3 linked regions of the Homo sapiens genome follow. The protein of the gene in region 1 interacts with the protein of each later gene in a pairwise test. Each region holds a gene or a part of one and is shown on either strand. Other genes may lie near its edges.

Region 1 (8,453 bases):
GTCATTTGGCACAAATGCGACAATCTCTGTGGGAGAAATTGCTGGTGGAGAAATTGCTGGGTCAAACAGTAGAGCCCTTGTAATTTCAATTAATTTTTGGATGAGCGAATTCTCACAGCAGGCGGGGACAGGGAAAGAGGTTCACAGGGCAGCGAGGACAAAGGAGGAGCAAGATGCAATGTTTTGACTGAAGTCCAGGGAGGGCTGCATCTGTCCCAGCAACCTGGAGGATGTGGCGGCTCCCCAAGCCCCTGGCTAAGCAGATGGAGGGTTTAATTTCATCTAGATTGTCCCCATAAGGGTTTTACAGAAAATTGGTTAAGATTCGAGGAGTAGGAGCCTCTTACGAGCAGTGGCTGCTTAATAAAATGCTGGAGCAGATACAGTTTCCCTTTGCCACCATCCACAACAGCAGCATCTGGGCTCTGACAGAAACCCCTCGGATGCCAAAGTCACCTCAGAATGGTACCCCAGTTGCGCTCTCCTTCCTCAGCATCTTTCTAGGTCCCCGAATACAGAGTAGAGAGCAAGGGGTTAAGAGCACAGGTTTTAGGGTAAGACAGATGTCCACCCAAATTTACTGTGTCAACTTGGGCAAGCCATTTTCCTCCCTGTGTCTCAGAGGATAATGGGTCCTAACTTCATGAGGCTGATGTGAGGACTCAATCAATCAAACCCAGAAAAGACAGTGGCCAGCACACTGGGAGAGCCCAATTAATGATCACCCAGGAGACACGGATGAAGAATAAAGACAGTGATCCCGGCTGGACACGGTGGCTCACACCTGTAATCCCAGCACTTTGGGAGGCCCAGACAGGCAGATCACATGAGGCCAGGAGTTCGAGACCAGCCCGGCCAACATGGCAAAACCCCATCTCTGCTAAAAATACAAAAAATAGCCAGGTATAGTGGTGGGCACCTGTAGTCCCAGCTACTCAGGAGGCTGAGGCAGGAGAATCGCTTGAACCTAGGAGGCAGAGGTTGCGGTGAGCCAAGATGGAGCTACTGCCCTCAAGCCTGTGGGACAGAGTGAGATCCTGTCTCAGAAAAAAAAAAAAAAAAGGCCGGTCGCGGTGGCTCACGCCTGTAATCCTAGCACTTTGGGAGGCCAAGGTGGGTGGATCACGAGGTCAGGAGATGGAGAGCATCCTGGCTAACACGGTAAAACCCTGTCTCTACTAAAAATATAAAAAATTAGCCAGGCGAGGTGGCACGTGCCCGTAGTCCCAGCTACTGGGGAGGCTGAGCCAGAAGAATCGCTTGAACCCGGGAGGCAGAGGTTGCAGTGAGCTGAGATCGCGCCACTGCACTCCAGCCTAGGCGGCAGAGGGAGACTCCATCTCAAAAAAAAAAAAAAAAAAAAAAAAAGGAATCTGAGAAGTCCCAGGACGACTGTAATAATGCTAACAGTAATGACAACAGTGACCACCCCATTGATCCAGGGGATACCTGACTCGGCTAAGGGCACAGGCTGGGGTCAGACAGACGTGGATTGGGCTCTATTGTGCACCTGGGTGAGTTGTGATGTCGCACCTGGGTGAGCTCACCTCTCAGAGCCTCATCGGCTTCCTCACCTGGGGAGGATAATGGCTCTGCGGCCCGGCTGGGGAGAGAACCGAGGAGGGGTTGGGGTGTGAGCCCCCGCCGCTGCCCCTTCGCGGCCGGCATTCCGGCGGCGGGCACGGCCGGGGCACACCCCGTCGCCGTCCAGCGGATCTCCGGGCCCCGGGGAAGACGGCCGCTCCTCCTCCATGCCTCCGCGGGCGGATTCCCCCGCAGCCTCCCGCGCCGCGCAGCGGGGACCCGGGTGATTGCAAACAGCCGCCGGCCTCATTAGGAGACTTATAATTAGCGGCTGGCGCAGCCCGAGCCGGCGCGCGCTAATTACCGCGGGGAGCCCGCCCGCCCGGCCACCGCCGGCGTCTGCACCCTCCTGGGCCAGAAGGGGCCGGGCCTGGTCCAAGACTGGGAGGCCGCGGGCCGTGCCAATGTGCTTCCTCCCGGGGCTGTGCCTGTGGGGGAAAAGTAAATCATTTGTTCAGAACAGCGTTTACTTGCCGAGGGCGGTGGCACACGCCTGTAATCCCAACACTTTGGGAGGCCGAGGCGGGCGGATCACTTGAAGTCAGGAGTTTGAGACCAGCCTGTCCAACATGGTGAAATCTCTACTAAAAATACAAAATTAGCCGGGCGTCGTGGCAGGCGCCTTAATCCCAGCTACTCTGGAGGCTGAGGCAGGAGAATTGCTTGAACCCGGGAGGCAGAGGCTGCAGTGAGCCGACATGGCGTCACTGCACTCCAGCCTGGGCGACAGAGCAAAAAACTGTCTCAAAAAATTCCTGTTGTTTGGCTATATTTTCTTTTTTCTTTTCTTGTTTTTAAGACAGTCTTAAAAATCAGTCTCAAAAAACAAACAAAACAAAAAAAACAAAAACAAAAAAAGGGCTTACTATGCACTCGCTGTGCCAGGCATTTTGTCCACATGACCCCGCTTAAACTTCATATCCACCCACGAGGGAGGAACCATTGTTATCCCATTGCACAGATGAGGAAACTAAGATCTGAGACATGAATTAACCCTCCTGACAGCACCTGGCCGGGCCAGTAAATGACGGAGTAGCGAATCGAACCTCCATCTGTCGTCTCTCCATCTTATTACACTAAATGGACGAGTGAAATCCTGCACGGGAGAGCACCAACCGTGTTGACCAGAACAAGGAGTCAGCTGGCTTTGGGTTCGAATTCTGATCCTGCTCCTAACTGGATACGAGGCTTTGGTCTGAGCCCCAACTGCATCTATAAAATGGGCGAAGCATTGCTGTTGAAATGAAGGCTGGGAGGAGTGAAATTTCTATGAGGGGTGGAGCGCTCAGGAGTTGGGGGTGTCTTGCTCTCTCCGCGCACTGCGGACCTCTGGCGCCCCCTGTTGGCCAAAGGAGGATGTCGCAGACACTTTCTGGTGAAAAGTTGTTCTTGGGTGGGGAGTGCCGTCACTGTCACTGGTCCCTTGGCAGGGCCACGGCGTTCCCTCTTCCTATTCTTTTCTTCCCTACCTTCCCCCACATCCCTCCTTTAAGGTGGCCAAGAAGAGTGGGAGATGGGAAAATTCAGAACTCATTCCAGATCTTGCAAAAATAGGTTGTGAAAGCTGCCCCCATTACGGACCTCACAGGACCAGCCAAGGCCAAGACACTTCTACAAATAATCAGGGATGGGCATAAAGACTAAGCTACAAAGCCATGCATCAAAGTATTGGGTATAACAAGAAAATCTAGAAATAATGTAAACGTCTACCAAAGGGATACTGACCAACTTCACAATGGTACGTCCAAACAATGCAATACTGCACAGCTAAAAAACAGTATTGTCGCTGAAGAGCTGACATGAAAATATAGCCAAATGGCCAGGCGTGGTAGCTCACGCCTGTAATCCCAGCACTTTGGGAGGCCGAGGTGGGTGGATCACCTGAGGTCAGGAGTTCAAGACCAGCCTGGCCAACATGGGGAAACCCTGTCCCTACTAAAAATACAAAAATTAGCCAGTTGTGGTGGCACACACCTGTAGTCCCAGCTACTTGGGAGGCTGAGGCAGGAGAATCGCCTGAATCCAGGAGGCAGAGGTTGCAGTGAGCTGAGATCGTGCTCCAGCTTGGGCAACAGAGTGAGACTCCGTCTCAAAAAACTAAATAAATAAATACAAAAATTAGCTGGTCGTGGTGGCAGGTGCCTGTAATCCCAGCTACTCGGGAGGCTGAGGCAGGAGAATCGCTTGAACTCAGGAGGCAGAGGTTGCAGCCAGCCTCCTGGCTGCATTTATATAAAGTTTAAGAACAGGCAAAATTAATCTAGCAGGGTAGAAGTGGTAATAGTGGCTGATAGCAGTAAGCAATTTGACTGGAAGAGGGCTCAGGGAACCTTCTGGGATACTGGAAATGCTCTTTATTTTAATCTTGGAGGTGGTTATAGAAGTCTATCCATATGTAAAAATTCATTGAGATGAATACACTTAAGAATATGTACTTTATGTAATACCCCATAAGACATTTTTTTTAAAATACTTAAAAATAAAAGAAAAAACATAATTTAACAGAGGGCATAGTTCTCAAGCTGTTTTCTCTGTCTCAGGACCCCTTTACACACGTTACTGAGGGTGCCCAAGAGCTTTTAGTTTTGTGGGTTATATTTACTATGGACATTAAAGTTGAGAAACGTTTAAAAAACAATACACAATTCCTAGAGCAGTGACGTCATCACGTCAAGCAGCCTCTGGAAAACTTGACTGTTCACTCAGAGAGAATGAAAAAGACAAGTAACATCTTAGCATTATTATGAAAGTAATTTTGACTTCGGGGACTCCCAAATCGAGTGAATTTAGGAAATCTCAGTGGTCCCCAGACGGCACTTTGAGAACCACTGGCGCAGGGAGAAAATGACAGAAGAAAACACACTACACGACAACAGTTATTCTCTCTCAGTGCTGGGATTATAATTTATTTGCTTCTTTGTGCTTTTCTGTCAAAAAAAAAAGGTAAACGGAAATGGAAAATACAATGACCACGTATTGTTTCTGCGAGCAAAAAACGAGACGGCACACTCGCCTCCCTAAGATTGCTGAAAGGCCCAAACAGCAATAGCATATTTAGCTGTATGGAAGAATTAAACTGAGCTCAAACCTGAAAATAAAAGTCCGATTTCCCGTTTGTCAATGCCTGGGCTGTGAGGTGCAGGGTCTTGCCCTCAAAAGCTCCACCGTTCACCTTGGGGAGAGAATATACTCGCATACATAACTGTGGTGCAAGGTTCCCAGGGCCCCAAGGGTAGCGGCTACATCCTACACACTATTGTAAACTTCAGTGTGCAACAGAACCATCCATTACAGCTGCAAGGCGCTCCATCCCGGGGTTCAGCCCTCAAACTAGTCAGTGACCCTCCGCAGGACGCATGCGCGCTTACAAACGCAGTTGGGCGGGGCTTGAGAGAGCTGACAGACTTCGGCCTCTCAACTTTCTAGCTCCGCCCTAATATCCTGTCTCCTTCTCTGAATGGCTGAAAGGCTGCGGAAGCAAGCTTCCCATTGGCAGCGGACAGAATTCACATCCGGTTTGCACGCCGGACCGGAGAGCGCGGAGGCAGCCATGGTGCGGTTCAAGCACAGGTAAGCATTCCCTTCCAGACCCTCCCAGTGCCTTGCTGGGTCCTCGCGGCCCCGCTAGTGTCCACCTTCCTCTCGCCTGCCGCAGGTACCTGCTCTGCGAACTGGTGTCTGACGACCCCCGCTGCCGCCTAAGCCTCGATGACCGAGTTCTGAGCAGCCTCGTACGGGACACGATCGCCAGGGTGCACGGAACTTTCGGCGCAGCCGCCTGCTCCATCGGCTTCGCGGGTGCAAGGGCGCTGGGGGAAGAGGGGAACCCGGGAGGATGGCGGGATGTGGAGGGGGCAGGCGCCGGAGGAAGAAAGAAGGGGCACGAGTGGCCAAGCCCGTGCACCGTTTTTTGTAAGGTATCTCTTTAAGCGCCTGGGACCCCAAGCGAGAGTCCGAAATTAGCAGAGCGCTAAAAGGAGGGGCCCGAAGGCAGTGGGGCTTTGAGCTAGAAGCCTCTTTTTACCTGCTTGACAGGTAATTTCTGTAATTGGTTGTGATTGAATTTGATAGGGTAGAGAATTAAATGAGGGAAGCTGTGTATACTTCCTAGTAAGAGCTATTATATGACCGATTACATTAACATCATATGGAAAAAAATTGTCAAAAGTACTCCGGGAAAGCCCTTAAATAGTTGGTAAAGTACAGAACACATGATTGTCAATATATGTAAATACAGGATGAGCTAGGACAGAGGGGCCCTTCTTTCACACCACTTAAATTAGTTCCCACTTTAACCTTGTTTGAGATTGACTTCTGGAGAGTTAAATGCAGATAGACTTAACTCTCCTAAGTCAGGTGAGACTGAGAGCTGACTGCTACAATAATTACGGAGCCCAAATGCAGTAAAACAGCCTGTTTTTCAGGCAAGGGTTTTGTGGGGGTTTTTCCTAAATTAAAACGGATCGCCTCCTACCTGCTCCTATTTATTGAATTAACTAGTGAATTAGAAAGCATTTTCAATTCTAAATTCATTCACCAGTTCTGAGTGGTGTGCAACACAGTGGGTGTTTTGGCTTTTCTCTTTTACTCGCTGATAGATCTACGTGCCACTTGCCTACAACATACTTTTGGCACATAGTAGGCTCTGTTACTCCAAAGTTTTCCTTTTTTCGAGACAGTCTGGCTGTTGCCCAGGCTGCTGGAGTGCAGCAGCGAGATCGGGGGTCATTGCTGCCTCTGCCTCCTGGGTTCAGGCGATTCTCATGCCTCAGCCTCCTGAGTGGCTGGAATTACAGGTGCGCACCACCACACCCAGCTAATTTTTGTATTTTTAGTAGAGACGGGGTTTCATCATGTTGGCCAGGCTGGCCTCGAACTCCTGACTTAAAGTGATCTGCCCGCCTCAGCCTCCCAAAGTGCTGGGATTACAGGCGTGAGCCACCACACAGAGCAAAAGTTTTCCAAAATGATTTTTCTTTCCTGTTGTAGTTCGATATCTCAATGCCTATACTGGAATAGTGCTACTTCGATGCAGAAAAGAATTCTATCAGCTTGTGTGGTCAGCTCTTCCCTTCATCACATACTTGGAGAACAAAGGACACCGTTACCCATGCTTTTTCAACACATTACATGTGGGAGGTAGGAGTGAGGTGGTATGGCTACTGATTTTCAATTGGTGACACGTTCACAGTTCAGTCTAAACTGGTGGGTGGGTCTTGCTGCTGTCCCGCTAACAAGACACTTCCCCCTACCTCTGAAAGTCTGTAAGGTCGAGATCTTTCACAAGCTGTTGACCACAGTAACTCATATGCCAGGTACAATAAGAACATGTCAGAAGTTCCTAATTCAGTACAACAGGAGACAGCTGTTGATCTTGTTGCAGAACTGCACTGATGAAGGTAAGCAACACTAGCCCAGTGCCCACTGAGCAGTGACTGACCTTAAGCTGAAGAAATCACTCCCAAAGATATCTTTCATCCCTGTTATCTGCCTTCTCCAGGAGAGCGGGAAGCTATCCAGAAGTCTGTGACAAGAAGCTGCTTATTAGAGGAGGAGGAGGAGTCAGGTGAGGAGGCTGCAGAAGCAATGGAGTGAACCTCTGCTCCCCACACAGCTGGCTACACTGCTCAGGCTTCAGGCCCACTTGTTGAACAGAACAATCTGGGTAGCAACAGCATCTTCCACAGTTTTCCAAACTGGATAGCTGCCAACCAGCAGACATTACCCACTTGAAATGGAGTACTCAGTTAAACTGAAGTTGCCTTTACCTAGCATTCCCTGGTGAAGTGTTGCAGGTTGTGAACTCTGTAGACATCTTTATTGCTTGGCTAAGAGTAGATTTAATAAATGTATCTGGTTTCCGTGGCATTTAGCATACTTATATTACAGAAAGGGCTTATGGAGTCCATGCTTGGCCAAGTCTCTGTTCTCTCTCTATCCCTAGCCTTGGTGGGAAGACTGACTCCCTATGTGGTACTAGTTAAACTTTTTTTTTTGAGACAGTCTCAGTCTATCACCCAGGCTGGAGTGTAGTGGCCCAGTATCGGCTCACTGCAACCTCCGCCTCCTGGGTTCAAGCAATTCTCCCACCTCAGCCTTCCAAGTAACTGGGATTACAGACGTGCACCACCACGTCTGGCTAATTTTTGTATTTTTAGTAGAGACGGGGTTTTGCCATGTTGGCCAGGCTGCTGTTGAACTCCTGGCCTCAAGTGATCGGCCTACCTTGGCCTCCAAAAGTGCTGGGATTAAAGGGTGAGCCACTGTGCCTGGCCTAAATTTTCAATACTTAGCCTTCTACCTGAAGCTTTGTACCCCCGGCCCCATGATGGGCCCTAAGCAAGCCAAGTCATTTGGAATAGAAATATTAGTTGAGACACAGCAACTGAACTGGCAGAGATCTACAGCCCATCTCAGTACTGAACCACAGGGTCTTACAGATACCAGATTCCTTGCCAATAGTTAATCAGGTAACTTAAAAAATACAACTTTGGGCCGGGCGCAGTGGCTCACACCTGTAATCCCAGCACTTTGGGAGGCTGAGGCGGCCAGATCACAAGGTCAGGAGATCAAGACCATCCCGTCTAACGCAGTGAAACCCTGTCTCCACTAAAAATACAAAAAATTAGCTGGGCATGGTGGTGGGTGCCTGTAATCTCAGGTACTCAGGAGGCTGAGGCAGGAGAATGGCGTGAACCCGGGAGGCAGAGCTTGCAGTGAGCTGAGATCCCACTACTGTACTGCAGCCTGGGCTAGAGCGAGACTCTGTCTCAAACAAAAAATGCAACCTTTGCAGTTGGGGGGGGCGCGGGTGCTGGCCTCATCTGACATCATTACTGCATGGTCATGTAGCAGCTGTCCACTTAAGG
Region 2 (7,985 bases), on another chromosome or scaffold:
TTGTTTAAATTGAGTTCTAGGTATTCTATTATACTTTTTGTTACGTCAGACATTCTTTTCATGGAAAGTGAGGGATATATTTGGATTTATTTTTCCCTCCCCTGAAGCTTCTTAAGCATGCTTTGTTAAACTTCGTAAAAAAGGGCTAAATGAAATTGCATGCTTAAAGGAAACTTAAAACCAGGAGACTGAAGACTGAGTTGCTCATCAGCTCTGTGTCCTTGGGCAAGTCGCTTGACTCAGCTAATCAGTTTCTTAATACAGAAAAGGTGCATAATCATTTGTACCACACAGGGCTGTGATAAAAAGTAAATGCTATAGATGTGTGTTTTGTAAACACCAAAGTGTTACATAAATATAAGACACCTCTATGACCAGTTCCTTTTGTTACATACTTTATTTTTTATTAAATATTTCCGTCTAAAGCAATTTCGTGGAAATGAAAGTCTGGTTCAGAATCTCTGAACGGCTGAAAATTGTAGACTCACTTTTATAGTTCATGTTCTTTTGTTTATTTGATCCTACCAACTCACAAGATTAAAAAAAAAAGGTACAGTTCCACACCAAATAAAAAAGTGTACTCAAGTCTCTCTAAGAGATTTGCATGTTATTTTTGCTTTCAGTTCATACACAAAAAACTGAATTTGTTATAACAGTGTCCATGGTTAGGTTTCCATGCTGACAGATGACTATTTTATTTGTGTTAAAGAAGTAGTATCTACGGTTATAATGATAGAAGCCAAGAATACTTGAATGTTGAATATATTTGAAACTTAGCACTTATAAGTTTATGTAAAGAATGGAGAAACTGTCAGAACAAAAGAAAGCCCAAACGATATTGAGGACAATTCGTGGGCTTTCATTTAGACCCTAAATGTTGGGAAAGACAGCAACATCTTTTTCAAATGGAACTGATCAAATCGCTGCTTGAATTGCTTTCACTTAGATTTTTCTAATATTTTTGAAACGATAACTAAACATCAGGTAGCTATTAAACCCTTATTTATTTCAAATGTGAGACCATACATTCACAACCTTTATTTTACAGCAGAGGATTCTAGAGAGTATTTCCCCCAAAACTTTCCCTGTGCATTGTTGGAAGTTGACTCTGCAGCATTAATCTTGTGGATCTGAAACCACTTTCCTGCACATGACAGAATATTTTGGTATTATTTCAAAACTCAGCCCCTGCAGGTCCACAAAAGACCCATTTTATTGCTAAGACGGAGTGTTTGCACTGTTTTAAAAATATGACTACTTTTATATAGGGGCATTGTATGACAATTTCCAGAGATATGAATTAACTAAAGTATTTTATCCAAAAAGGCAAACAGCAACAATAAAAACATTTCAATAGCCAAAATTAATTCTAACATAAGCTTTTTTTGGGACAAGTTGGCAATTGTAGTAGTTGGGGTAAAGGATTGATCTATCATTATAAATTATATGTTAGATTTATACTTTTTAATATTAAAATGTTTATTTAGCACATTTTATGTATGAAGCACAGTTTAGGGACCATTTAAAACTGGAACCACATCACAGTGATATTACACGTGAAGTTGACAAAGGTATACAGTTTTCAGGTTGTGCTTATGTAACAGCTAAAGAATGATCACTGTTAGTATCTAGAGCAAATAGTAATGGAATAATAGGGGTCTCCAGAGGTTAACTAGTCCACCCATCTGTTTCTTAGCTGAACCAATTACCAAAGTCATCCCACATGAGTGAGTGTTTTTGTATCATTAAGGTGCTCTCATAGAGACAATAATTTCTCAGCCTTTCCCAGTTGTTACCCTAATGCACGCTATCAGTACTTCCTTTGACCTAAAGCCTGTATTTAATGGAACAGTTAAGCAGCTTTGCACATAAGCCACTCTTTTAAAAAATCAAATCTGTAAGAATATAGTGTATATAGTAAGCAGCTAACTATTAAGAGGGAAAAATGTTCTCTAATAGATGTATGTATTTCTAAGACTTTCCTTCTCTTGAAGTTTAGGGTAGACATATGTCAGCTCTGGTTGGTGACACTGCAAACAGTTTTTACTATTGTAATTGCTTTTCATTAGTAGCTATTTGTTTTTGCTTTAAGGTTGAGAATTTCCTATGAGTTGCTTTATTTTTTTATGATTTTTAAAAATAAATTACTGACTTAAAGTCTATAAAAGCAACTCTTATTGTTTGTTTGTTTTTTCCTCAGTTACTTGGACATAGGAGAAATCAAGAAAAGACCAATGGAAGTTGTTAATACAGAGGTAATGCAAATATTATTTTGAAAATTCAAATAAATAACGGTGCCATTTGTTTCTTATGGTGTGTCTTAGAGATTTGGACGGCATTCTACTTTGATGAGTTCTCTAATGTAAAGAAATGGAACATTATATGTTTTAAGGCAAAGATAATTCTTTCTTTGAATCATTGTCAGAAATGAAAAGACTGAGTAGATGTTCTAAGATGTGCAGGATATGTCAAGATTAGACAAAACATATTTTTCTCTTTTCTAGCTACATGTTCTCTGATTGAAATCCATGGGAAGGTTCCCTGTCAAGTGAGAAGATTCTGAGCGTTGTTAAATAAATCTTTACCAAAGCTACATCCTCATCCTAATGTGCCTCTGATAACTCAGTGTTTGATGTAGCCAGGGTCACCCTAACTGCCCCTGAGGCTTTCAAAGGAGATGAGTAGATGTCACGTTGGACACTTTGTGATGTCAGGAAAACACCTGTGTTTTAGCTTCTATCGAAGTACGAGTTAAGCATAGTTCGTGAAAGCTTATGTGAAGGTTGGAAAAGGAGCTTGTGAAATATTCACAATACCGCATTCCACGTAGCTTCTGAAACCCTGGTGGAGTTTTAGGTATTCTGTAGGATGTATTCTTTAGTTTGTGAATGAAAAAATAGATTAAAAACAAAGTTGGGGCCACAGCCTGAGACAGGGAAAATTGTAGTTAGATCCAGAATAGGCCTCTGTTCACCAGCCCAGACAGCCACTCTTCCCATTCAGACCCCAAATAAACAAGTGCTTCCAATGGGTAAGTGCTGCCAATGAAGAAATGGCCAACAGGAAAAGTAGTTTTTCTCACTTGTAGTCCAGAGCCCCAGAGGGACTCTCCTCAACACTCACCATTTCCTCTCACATCATGTTTGTGCCTAATAGGACCAAATAGGCCCCTCTAGAAAAAATATTGCGTAAGAAAAAAATTCTAATTGTACAGTATTTGAAGAATATGAGGTTAAATTCATTATTCAAATAATCTGTAGAAAGAGGTACCCTTCCTAGACATCATTTAACATAATTAATATTTTGGCTTGTATTTTCAGTGCATCAAATTGATTAGTCATGAAAGTGATAGGCTTTGTAGCTTAAAGTAGACAAAGGTATACAATTTTCAGGTTGTGCTTATGATATAGCTAAAGAATGACCACCAGTTGATATCTGTCTCAAGTAGAGTAGTAATAAAGGGCAGTGTTGTGAATTTGTTCTGGATGTGATTCTGATGAAAGGATACACACCTGTTTAAAGTATACTACCTTGCATGAAATTGGTGAAGAAACCTGGACTTCCGCAATAGAATTTGAGATGTGTGAATTCCCAAAAAATGTGAGCACAGTATATTTACTCTGGATTCCAGTGTCTTTGCTGAAGACATTATCCCTAGTAAAAGACAACAGGTGTGCAATAGATTTATCGAATATACTTTTTTCTTAAAAATTTTTTTTTGAGACAGAGTCTCCTTCTGTCACCCAGGCTGGAGTGCGGTGGCTCGATCTCTGCTCACTGCAACCTCCACCTCCTGGGTTCAAGCGATTCTCCTGCCTCAGCCTCCTGAGTAGCTGGGATTACAGGCACGTGCCACCACACCTGGCTAATTTTTTTGTTTTTCGTAGAGACGGGGTTTCAGCATGTTGGTCAGGCTGGTCTTGAACTCCTGACCTCATGATCCGCCCGCCTTGGCCTCCCAAAGTGCTGGGATTACTGGCATGAGCCACCAAGCCCGGCCTTAAAATAGTATTTTTAATAACAGAAGCATTCACAGAAACTCCAGTTCATTTAATTTGCTTATTGTTCTTCCACTCTGGGGACAGTAACCATTGTTTCTCTTTATTTTGCACTTACACATGAGCCAACGTACAAGATCCTTATTTATGGATGCACACCTTACGTGTGAAAAACCTACCCCTTGTCTCCAAATGAAAGACTGCATCTCTTTCATCCTGCTTCCTACTGGTGACTCCCTCCCACTTACTCCTTTCCTCTTGCTGCCCTGCTGTGGCCTTTTATTTCTTCTCAGTCCTTACCCATAAACCCTTCTAAAGGAGATGGAAAGAGAGAAGTAGAAGAAATTGTGAAATGCAAAGGAGATGGGAAAAGGTGTTCAGAAACTGCTTGTCCATGCTCTTTCCCGCATCTTCCACTCACTCATGCCCAGCTTTCCCACTTGTTCGCTAGAGTCCTCTCTCCCACTCTGCCCTCCTGTCCTAAAGTTTCCTCCAGGTCTGGACAAGCAGTGTGTTCACTTCCCTCACTTCACATGTCCAGTCCGGAGATACCTTCCTCCCCAAAGTTCGCACCATGACCTTCACCCTCCGAAGTCTGCTTTAAGCAAAGGCAGCCCCTACTTTCATTGCCAGAAAGAAAGGTTTTTGGGTTCTTGGCATCTCAAAAGGGAACTATGAAAGCATTTTTCTTCTGGAAATATCACTTTGACTCTGAATTCTATGGTATTTTTACGGCTGTTTTAGGTAGAGCACGAGTGGAAAAGGGTTTTGCAGGCTGCCCTGAGAACCTAATTATACTGTGTGATTTTTAGTATGGGAAACTACCTTTCTCTTTCCCACAACTGATTTATAGTCAAACTTTTGGAGTTCAACAAGTTGATAAGTTGGAGGATGATCTATGCTCAAAATTTGAGAACAGACTTGGTAGAACACTGGCATTTCACAAAAATTATAGATCTTTAAAAATCTTAGGTGGGTATTTCCTTTCAACATTAATGTGTTGAGAAAAGATTGCACATCTTGTTAAGTGCTATTAAGGATGAGCATTCTTTGGAGTATGATGATATATAAAGGGAGATCAATAGAGAATTATTTTTGAAGTGGATTTAGAACATGAATACTTCATGAAATTGGAGGGTTAAGAGTTGTTTCAAGGGGGAGTTTCAGTGCCGTAGTAGCACAAAAAAATTCAAAAATGTGTCATTATGAGGGATGAGTAAAATAACTTACTCACCAAAATGGGGGGCATTTCCTTCAAATCTAAGGTAATTTTGAGTTTTCAGTGATGGGCCTGCATAATAAAAGCCACCACCCCAGTATACACAATTCAGTTTTTCTGGTTGCCTAAAACATACTAATTCTAATTATTCCGAGTACATTTTATACGGAAAGACCTTTGCATTTCAGTGGAGTCATGCAGAGTGTGTGGCACTGGGTCCTACCCACTGTGGCTGGGACACCCTTTCAGTGAGTGCTGGGAGTTATTCCTTCTCCTTTTCCAGAGCAGCTCACCCAAGACCATGGGTACGATTTGTTGCTTTTACGTAGTTAATAATTTAGACAAGATGGCACCTGCTTATTGACTTCAGGTCATGCTAACTAGAATGTGCGTGTCACCTTGACATTGGAAATGCTTTTGTGGTTTGTGTCACTGCTTGCTTGTTCCATGAGGCTCATCTTTGAAGAGATACTTAAGGACAGCCAATGCTATTCCTCTTCCTCTTTATGGCCTCATGATGGGTTTGGGGAAAGGCAGAACTGTAATGGACCTAACCCAAAAGAAGCATAGGGTCCTATTTGGTGAACACTTTGCACAGCAGGAAGTAATGGGGTGGAGGGGGGGAATAAAGAAACAGAAGAATAAAAGAAAGAGGAATAAGGTGACTCTGTGGTTGTTTGCACCCACCTCAGAGTCAGGGCACCATATGGGCTCAGAGCAGCCTATCCCTGACTCTCTACACCCAGGTCCTGCTTTTACTAATATCTAAATAAACAGATCTCCTGGATTGCCCTTGTACTCTTTTTGTGCTCCTGAGTCATTTTGCATAGCTATATTTTCATTTTTCCTCCCACTTTCCCTGTGTCAGTGGTGGTTTAATGAAGACAGTTTTCTTAGCTTCTGACCGTGGTAACTCATCTCCTTGTATTTATGACTTCCCAATCCTCTCTTTGCTTCCTCGTGTCCCACCTCTCAGTCCAGTTTCACATCTCATTATATCTTCTAAGTCCTAAGTTGATTTACCAGCTCCTTTCTTTCCTCTTTACCTTAAGCAGCCTGTGGGAGTCCTCTGTCCTCATGCAGTTGGAGACCTCTGATTCTGCATGTGTGATGCCTTTACCAGCACTTACTCTTGCCCCTACCCTTCTGCTTTACTGAATGTGATTTCTGCTTCCTCTCTTCTTGTTTTCCTACCTTGTCCTCTCTGCTTCCATGTTATTGAATGCCTATACAATGCAGTGGGCAGAGTAAGCAAAATGATTAAGACATGCATGACCTCTCACATCCAGGAATTTATAGTCTTGCTGAAAAGACAGATGAGCATCTCTAGTACTACATCATAAGTGATTCGATTTAGTAAATATAGTTTGCATTGAGCCATTTAGTTCAAGTGCTTCTGGCTTTATCATGTTGCAGCAAAGCCATTTGTGGACCCTTCAAATGGAAGCGTCCTTCTGCTTTGACCTGGCATTGTAGATCTCACTCTTCATTCCTGCACCTCATGTCTCATCCATGTAGTACATCCTTCAAATAATGACATTCTTTTTTTTCCATAACCATTCAAGGTGGAATTAATGACATTCTTAAATAGATATTTAGAGTACAAATCTGTTTTACTGTGTAAGGGGCTTTGGTACATGTTATATAGAGAGGGGAAGAGCAGGCAGCTTGACTTTGGAGCACTTAGATGGGCTGGGAACTGTGCTAGGCACTAGGCATAAAATGGATACTTCACTGCTCTTGCTCTTTGGGAGTTCAGCGTGTAGGAGAAGAGACAGAGAAGTAAACTAGCTATGATTATCTAGTGGCAGGTGGCTGTGCTAGAGGTGTGCTCAGAGGACTGAGGAAGTGCAGATTGGATTAGGGTTGTGGGTCAGCCAGTTTGAAATGGTTTAAAATATAATAGACCCTTTTGTTTTTTAGCCTGCTTCTCTTAGATCAAAGTTTTGAGAAAGTCTTTTTCTACAACTTGATTAAGAGGGTATTATTTAATAATTATATCTGTAAGAGTCAAAATCAGTCTCTAGCAGAAAGAGTGAAAATCAGCTTGCATGGAAAAGAGGAAAAGGTCGCTTTGCTATTAACCAGGCTTAGAGGATAGACACATTTAAAGCCAACTATAAAATTAACAGGAAACATTGTTTCTCCCATGGTGGCACAGGGCTGTAAAATGCCACAAGGATCCCTTCTTTGAGTGATGACTGCTTTCTTACTGCTGATGCTCTCAGACTTGCTTTGCTATTCCCATCTTTTACGGAGATCTTTATTGGATAAACTTCTCTTATCTCATACAACCCCTGGTTAATCCCTGATTCTTTTAATTTCACCTTAAAAACAGAAACCAATCTAGAACTGATCTCTGTTTCCCTTAGCTCTTCAGAATCCTTCAATGAGATTCCAAACCCTACAAACCTACAAACCCTCCTGCCTCTTTGTCACTGTCATTTTATGGATTCTTTAAGTGCTGGCACTTGCTACACCAAGTCCACACATCTGATTTTGTCAGACTGCAGGCTTGTTCCTGTTAGACTTCTGATTAGGCTTTAACATATACATCAGAGTTGTCTGTTAGATTGTGGTCTCTAGGAGGTCTGCTAATCCTGTATCGTACCCACCACGCTGAAGACTGGGAATTGTTTAAATTTGCCATGGTTTTGATCTTCCTTTTGGGCCAATTTAAGTAGATGTCCATTTGCCTTGCACATGCCTGGTTATTCCGATTTTTGCATGATGGATAGGACGTCTCAAGTAATTTAAAAGCCTTTTTT
Region 3 (7,985 bases), on another chromosome or scaffold:
TGTTTTGCTTATTTTACTCTGGTTTCTTACCTTAGGTAGACTTTGGGGGTGAATGGTTCTCTACTTAGAGGCAACAGTTATGTACCCTCCGTAGAACCTGTCTATGAATATGGGATAAAACATAGATTACCTAAAAAGTAGGATACCGTAACTTACATTTTAAATGGAGATTCATTTTTATTTTGGTTCGGGTTGGTTTAAAAATATTTGTTAAGGTGACAGGAATGGACAGGTTTAGATATTTTTTCCACTAAACCATCGGGCAGGAGAAGGTTTAGATTTTGACTTATGAGAACATAGCTTTAGCAATTTGTTTTGTGTCTTAGGCCTCTAAAGGTTTTGTGATACGGCTTTTGGCTTCTTAGCAGTTTTGCCTGTGTAAATTCCTAAGTACTTAATTGTGTCTCCCGCTTTGTGCAGGATTTATCCTATTACTGTTGTTTGGAGTTGAAAGGCAAAGAGGAAGAAATACTAAAGGCGCTTTCTGGAATGTGTAACATAGACACAGGTAAACTTGTTTTAAAGCTGAGTTCTATTTTAGTCTATGTATATTTATTCATTTCATAAAGAAGTGTCTACTGTAAGCATTTTGGAATTCAAACATATAGAAAAGTGTGTGAGACACTAATCATTCCCAATGAAAATGTTAACTTAAAAACAGTTGGGTTGGCTTTTAAATAATTTCTAACATTGTCAAGTGTAAAGTGATAGAGTCATTTTTCTGGTGGAGTGAACTTGACAGAAAGAAACTTGAAGCTCTCATTACTCATTTAACACATATTTGTTGAGAACTTATTGTGTGCCAGGCTTTGATCTGAGCAATCCTCACAACCAAAACTTCACCTCTCATGGAGGCAGACAGTAAATGACAGTGTGGTTATCAGGAAATAGGACTGCAGTCTCAACACCCGGAATTATGGAATTTTGCTTTTGTTGATGTCAGGGCTGACGTTTGCAGCAGTTCACTGCTTGTCTGGAAAGCGCCAAGGGAGCCTTGTGCTTTATCGGGTGAATAAATATCCCAGAGAAATGCTTGGGCCTGTTACGTTTATCTGGAAGTCCCAGAGGACCCCGGGTGACCCTTCTGAGAGCAGGCAGCTGTGGATCTGGCTGCATCCAACCCTTAAACAGGTATAATCCTTCAGGTTATCTCCCGTCATTCTGAAACTGCATTTTTAATTACTGCTGGAAGTCAATACTGTAGAAATGTAAATAGTGTAAAGGTTTGTCTGATAGTCTGATATTTGTATATGGGGGGCTCTATGATTATTGAATGAAGTGAATTTTTAAAAAACTTTAAAAATTTGTATTTAAAAATGTCTAATTGACAAAAAGCAAATATATTCAAAGTATATAATATGATGATTTGATATACATGTTGTATACCACAATCAAATAACACATCCATCACCACCCATGCTGTACATTATATCCCCGGAACTTGTTTATCAAATATAATGAAGTCAGGGCGGGGCATGGTTTCTCATGCCTGTAATCCCACCACTTTGGGAGGCTGAAGCAGTTGGATCACTTGAATCCAAGAGTTTGAGACTAGGCTGGGCAACACGGTGAAACCCTGTCTCTGCAAAAAAGACAAAAATTAGCTAGGATTGGTGGCATGCACCTGTAGTCTCAGCTACTTGGGAGGCTGAGGCGGGAGGATCACTTTGAGCCCAGGAGGCAGAGTTGCAGTGAGATGAAATCGTGCTATTGCACTCCAGCCTGGGTGACAGTGAGACCCTGTCTCGAAAAAAAAAAAAACTAATCTTGACATCTCATATTTTTAGTAAGTCATAAGCAGAAGTAGAGATAAAAACCAGCCTTATGCTAATTATTTGAAATGTTGAATTTGAACTAATGTTTCTACCATGACTGAAGTGGTTCACTAGTATCTAGGGGCTATTTGATAATGAAAAGCTATTTTTGAGTAATTCTAATGATTTTTCACACTGAATTTAGCTTAGCTTCCCTTCTTTAGCATACTCACTACTTTAAAAAAATGTAGTCAGAGTGATCATGTTGTTTTCATAATATTTGACTAACCCTACCCCTAGCCCCAGCCCTAATTAACCCATTTGAAATTTTCAGTTTCAAAATTTTTTTTTGTTTAAAGTGGCATACACTACTCAGAACACCCAAAAAAGCTTTTTTTCAAAAATTAAAATTAAATTAAAAAAAATTTTTTTTTCCCAGAGGGTTTTGCTCTGTCATTGAGACTTGAGTGCAGTGGTGCAGTCATAGCCCACTGCAGCCTCTACTTCCCAGGCTCAAATGATCCTCCTACCTCAGCCTCCCCGAGTAGCTTAGACTACAGGGGTGCACCACCTTGTCCAGCTAATTATTTTTTTATTTTGTGTAGGAACAAGGTCTCCCTATGTTGCCCAGGCCATGGTCTCAAACTCCTGGGCTGAAGCCATCCTCCTGCCTCAGCTTCCCAAAGTGCTGAGATTACAGACGTGAGCCACCACACCTGGCCGAAAAAAGCTTTTTGATGATAAATTTAATTTAAGTTAATTTGTGAGGGAATACAAATGTGATTTTTTTTTATTTTTTATTTTTTATTTTTTTTTGAGACGGAGTCTTGCTCTGTTGCCCGGGCTGGAGTGCGATGGCACGATCTCAGCTCACTGCAACCTCTGCCTCCCAGGTTCAAGTGATTCTCCTGCCTTAGCCTCCTGAGTAGCTGAGATTATAGGTGCCTGCCACCCAACTATTTTTTGTATTTTTCAGTAGAGATGGAGTTTTGCCAGTTGGTCAGGCTGGGCTCGAACTCCTGATCTCAGGTAATCTACCCACCTCGGCCTCCCAAAGTGCTGGGATTACAGGTATGAGCCACCGTGCCTGGCCAAAAATGTTAATTTTTAAAGAGATTTAAAAAAAAAAACCCAACTAAATTTGTCGTAATATATTTAAATTTCAAGATTTTAAAGTGAATGTTTAAATATATTTTTAGGATATCTTAGAGGAAATAAAAGCAGCGTGCCAGTGTGTGGAACCCATCAAATCAGCTGTCTGCATCGCTGACCCACTTCCAACACCATCCCAAGAAAAAAGCCAAACTGAATTGCCTGACGAGAAAATTGGCAAGAAAAGAAAAAGGAAAGATGATGGAGAAAATGCTAAACCAATTAAAAAAATTATCGGTGATGGAACTAGAGATCCATGTCTACCATACTCTTGGATCTCTCCAACCACAGGCATTATAATCAGGTATGAGTTGAATTTGCTTTGAACCTACTGAACATTTTCAGTGAAGACCTGCTCCATTTTTGTCAGTGGCACAGATGTTGTGTGATGAAAGTTTCCATTTTAAGATGTTCTTTCTTTTTCAGCGATTTGACGATGGAGATGAACAGATTCCGGCTGATTGGGCCACTTTCCCACTCCATCCTAACTGAAGCAATAAAAGCTGCTTCTGTCCACACTGTAAGAGTAAAAGTGACTGTAGTGTTTTATTCTAATCATGTTTTTCCTGTCAAATTTGTGAAACCTAATATATAATTTGGTAACATTTTGGGCCATGGCTTTTAGATGTTTATTTCCCTACTTATTATGCTTATTATCAAAGATTTTGTTATCTTTCACTTCTCCTAGAAGACCACAACTAAGTGGATATGATCAGTAAACTGACTGTTCTTACTTAAATACAGACTGCTCTTGCATCTGTGAGTCTTGTAGAGGGTCTTAACTTCTGCTTCATAGGTAGGGAGTCTCTAAAATCCCTGAAATTGTGTGCCAGATTTTGTGATGTGTGCGTGTGCCATGTAGGTTTTCTTTTCTTTTTTTTTTTCTGAGATTGAGTCTCATCCTGTTGCCCAGGCTGGAATGCAGTGGTGCGATCTTGGTTCACTGCACCCTCTGCCTCCTGGGTTCAAGCGATTCTCCTGCCTCAGCCCCCCGAGTAGCTGAGACTATAGGTGCACACCACCAGGCCCAGCTAGTAGAGACAGGGTTTCACCATGTTGGACAGGCTGGTCTGGAACTCTTGACCTCAGGTGATCCGCCCACCTTGGCCTCCCAAAATGCTGGGATTACAGGCATGAGTCACCGCACCTGGCTGGTTTTCTGGGGCTAGTTTTAGGGGTCTAGAATCTCTAAAAAGGTTAAGAGCAGTATGTCTAGGGCAGCACTTCCAGTAGAGCTTTCTGTGAGGATGATGTTCCTTTGTGCTGTCCAGTACGACAGCCATTAGCCACATGTGGCAGTTGAATACTTGAATTGTGGCTAGAGTGACTGAGGAACTGAATTTATACCTTTACTTAACTTTAATTAACTAAAAATTAAATTTGAGTAGCTCTATTGGCAAGTGGCTAGCATAGAGACTAGATTAGGAATCTGCACCCTGGGTTCAGATCCTGTTCGTTTTCTGGTCTTAGTGCAATTAACTTTTCAATGCCTGTGCCTCTCACTGACTTGACGTGGTCAAATACGATGATAGAGCTGAACAGATTCTGAGTTTTTAGAAGAAAGATGCTTTAAAATACAAAAGCTACTTTTCTCCATCTTCACTGCTTCTGCTGTACTCTCAACCAGTGTTGTCTCTTGCCTGAACAATTGGGGGATCAGGAAAGGATTCTAGAGGGAACCTTAAGTTTCCTCCATCCTTCCTCCTTTTCAGCCCATTCTCCACACAAGAGGCAGAGTGATTTTTTGATAATTTATTCCCTCTTGTTGCTTCCTGATGAAAAGTTTTTGAATAGCTTCTCATTGTAATTAAGATAAAATCCAAAGTGCTCAATGTGACCCGTGTAATCTTGTGCCTTCTTGCCTCTGAGGCCTCATTTCTCCTCACCCTTCTACACTTCAGCCACCCTGACCTTCTTTCAGGTTCTGGAATGTCAGTTCTTGTCTCCCTTAGAGCCTTTGCACCTGTTTTTTCCTTCCAACTACTGAGCATTCTGCCTCCACCACTCTTTACTTTGCTGAACCTTCCTCATTCTTCAGATTTCAGTCTCTAGCATTTCCCTCTAGCATCCTTTCCTGATCCCCCAAGTTAAACTAGATCCCTCCTGTTGTTTTCAGAGAGAGCATCTTGCAAATTCCCTCAATTTATTTATATAGATTTGTGTATTTATGTAATGTCCATGTCTCTCATGAGACTGTGAGCTTCATAAGGGTGAGGATAGAGTTGGTCCTGTTTTTCACTCTCTCCCCAGTGCTTAGCACAATGTCTGGCACAGAGAGGGTGCCCCGTAGTAGCTAATAAGTTGTGGAGCAAAGATTTGAACCAATGAAGTTTGGTTCCAGAGCCTGTACTGTAAACCACTAAGCTGTGCTACCTGAGTTTCTGTGAGTAAATGGTACCTTTGTTATGATTGCTTTTTTTTTTTTTTTTTTTGTTTGAGACAGAGCCTCACTCTGTCACCCAGGCTGGAGTGCAGTGGCACAATCTCAGCTCACTGCAACCTCCACCTCTCAGGTTCAAGCAATTCTCATACCTCAGCCTCCCGAGTAGCTGGAATTACAGGTGCCAGCCAACACACCCGGCTAATATTTTTTGTATTTTTAGTAGCGGTTTCACTATGTTGGCCAGGCTGGTCTCGAACTCCTGGCCTCAAGTGACCCGCCTGCCTCGGCCTACCAAAATGCTGGCATTACAGGCATGAGCCACTGCACCCGGCCATGATTGCTTCTTTAGGATCCGTAAGTGCACATCCTACTTCAGTGAACTTCAGCATGAGTTGTGGCTATAGATTCCCTTCTTGCCATGCATGTGATACTTGAAGGACTTTTTGAAATCTTCCTCAATTCCTAGTTCCATGTGGAAAAAATATACATTTCTAGGAATAATGTAGTAGTAGTATATCTTTTATCTGGAAAGTTCTTCAAAAGGTACTGGTTTGATTTTCCTTTGGTGAGGAACATTTTATTGCTTACATTGGAGATGATGAAGTTAGCTCTAGTGGAAGAGGACCAGGCGTGTGGCTCACACCTGAAATCCCAGCTCTTTGGGAGGCTGAGGTGGGTTGATTGCTTCAGCCCAGGAATTCAAGACCAGCCTGGGCACCATAGTGAGACCATATATCTACAAAAAATAAGTTAAAAAAAATTAGCTGGGCATGGTGGCATGTGACTGTGGTTCCATCTCCCAGCCACTTGAAAGGCTGAAGTGGGAGGATCACTTGAGCCTGGGAGATTGAGGCTGCAGTGAGCCATGACAGGCCACTGCACTCCAGCCTCAGTGACAGTGAGACTGTGTCAAGAAAAAAAAGAGAGAGGAGCGAGGCCTCCTTTGTTGGTACTGCGCTCTGGAGAGACTTTGAGTGTGAAGTATCTTAGTGAGTTAGTCTATGAAAACCATAGATGATTTTCTTCATATGTGAAATCTTGAGAGAAGTGTAATACTATATCCTTGCTGCTAATTCAAAGGGTAGTTAGTCTGGTATTAATTACTATGTTAAGTATAGTGGCAACTTCCCTGGTTCATCCCATAACACATACATTTCCACACATAGAAGAAGAAAGAGTGGGGGCTGATATCACAACCATGACAAAATTATGAAGGTGGATTCATTGTTCGTCCAGTGAATAGTAGTTGTTATTTTTCAGGTGGGAGAGGACACAGAGGAGACACCTCACCGCTGGTGGATAGAAACCTGTAAGAAACCTGACAGCGTTTCCCTTCATTGCAGACAAGAAGCCATTTTCGAGTTGTTGGGAGGTATACAAAGGGAAGACTGGGTTGTGTTGGGGAGGGAAGGGGGCCAAAAGAGCCTTTTGCAGTTGGGCCTCCAACATGTAGTATTGCTTTTTAACCTGCTGCTATTGTGACACAGCAAGAGAACCAAGTAAGAGAGGGACTGAACTCAGTGAATAAACACTATATTCATGCCTGGTTATGAAACAACAAACAAATGGTATGTTCATATTCTAAGTAACTGGCATTCTGATAGTGGAGATAAATGCATACACCAGGTACTGACCTAAACTCTATGCTTACCTGCACACAACTGCATTTTTGCTCATAGCTGCTGTAGTTATCACTGATAGAAGCATATGTGTTCATTTCATAAAAGAACCTTTTTTTATGTTGGCCTCATGTTTTTTGCAAGAAACCTCATTCTTTATGAATGTTAACTTATTCTCTAAAAGTATCAATGGGAAGAGAGGGAATACATGTTTTTAAGTAATTAGTCCAAGAAAAACGTTTCATTAGGAAATCTGAAAGATTTAAAAATACAAGCAAATACAGATGTATTATGAATGACTTTCTGTAAACTTCTTTTTGTTGTTGTTAAAGGAATAACATCACCAGCAGAAATTCCGGCAGGTACTATTCTGGGACTGACAGTTGGGGATCCTCGAATAAATTTGCCCCAAAAGAAGTCCAAAGCTTTGCCCAATCCAGAAAAATGCCAAGGTAAAGTTCCAAAAACACCCCAGGTTTTCCTTACTATTTCGAGCAGTCCAGTCTTATTAGAAGAAGAGTTCTTTCTCTGACACCTCTCCAGTAACTTCATCTGTAAAAAATTAGGGCAGTCTCCTTACCTGCCCACTTTACAAGCTGATTATGATCTAAGGAAATGGTAGGTGTGGAAGTGTCTTTTAGCAGTAAAACACGTAGCCTGATACTTATGTTCATTTTATTTTCCGAGTTCTCTTTTTTTAGTATCTAGTAAAACCTGTCTCTCTGCAAACTACGTTCTCTGAAAATGTCTGGCGTTTCAGAATTTTAATTGTGAGGAAGGGATCTGCACCCGAAGCTGGTCTTGTGCTCAGTGGAAGCCTCTGTCTGACCATACAGATGATCCAGGTTCGAATCCTGGCAAGGCCATCCCAGGTGCTGAAGTATAAGATGTCTTGGTTTAGACTAAGTAGTACTAGAGGCCTGAGAAAGTTGTTTGGCTGGGGTGGCACAGGAGGTGGGTAAGGGGCTGGCTAAAATTTTGTTCTGATATGAGATTGGCAGCAATTTTGATAATGTCTCATTGTATTTACTGTCATTTAAACATGATTAATTGGAAGAATAATTAAAATTACCATGT

What was found. The genes of interacting proteins can lie anywhere in the genome.
Region 2: the proteins of POP5 (region 1) and DCDC2 interact in binary tests that used the Homo sapiens proteins (3 or more experiments, as listed by UniProt).
Region 3: the proteins of POP5 (region 1) and POP1 interact in binary tests that used the Homo sapiens proteins (3 or more experiments, as listed by UniProt).

The regions. Positions count from the first base shown.
Region 1 is NC_000012.12:120,578,044-120,586,496, reverse strand, and holds POP5 (ribonuclease P/MRP protein subunit POP5), read left to right. Parts: upstream 1-5,094; 5' UTR 5,095-5,134; coding exon 5,135-5,154; intron 5,155-5,239; coding exon 5,240-5,382; intron 5,383-6,573; coding exon 6,574-6,723; intron 6,724-6,845; coding exon of another isoform or gene 6,846-6,899; coding exon 6,900-6,983; intron 6,984-7,084; coding exon 7,085-7,179; 3' UTR 7,180-7,733; downstream 7,734-8,453. UniProt on the Homo sapiens protein: Component of ribonuclease P, a protein complex that generates mature tRNA molecules by cleaving their 5'-ends. Also a component of the MRP ribonuclease complex, which cleaves pre-rRNA sequences.
Region 2 is NC_000006.12:24,347,839-24,355,823, reverse strand, and holds part of DCDC2 (doublecortin domain-containing protein 2), read left to right. Parts: intron 1-2,200; coding exon 2,201-2,255; intron 2,256-7,985. UniProt on the Homo sapiens protein: Protein that plays a role in the inhibition of canonical Wnt signaling pathway. May be involved in neuronal migration during development of the cerebral neocortex. Involved in the control of ciliogenesis and ciliary length.
Region 3 is NC_000008.11:98,133,529-98,141,513, forward strand, and holds part of POP1 (ribonucleases P/MRP protein subunit POP1), read left to right. Parts: intron 1-420; coding exon 421-508; intron 509-943; coding exon 944-1,131; intron 1,132-2,953; coding exon 2,954-3,210; intron 3,211-3,332; coding exon 3,333-3,426; intron 3,427-6,549; coding exon 6,550-6,661; intron 6,662-7,240; coding exon 7,241-7,360; intron 7,361-7,668; coding exon of another isoform or gene 7,669-7,676; exon of another isoform or gene 7,677-7,737; intron 7,738-7,985. UniProt on the Homo sapiens protein: Component of ribonuclease P, a ribonucleoprotein complex that generates mature tRNA molecules by cleaving their 5'-ends. Also a component of the MRP ribonuclease complex, which cleaves pre-rRNA sequences.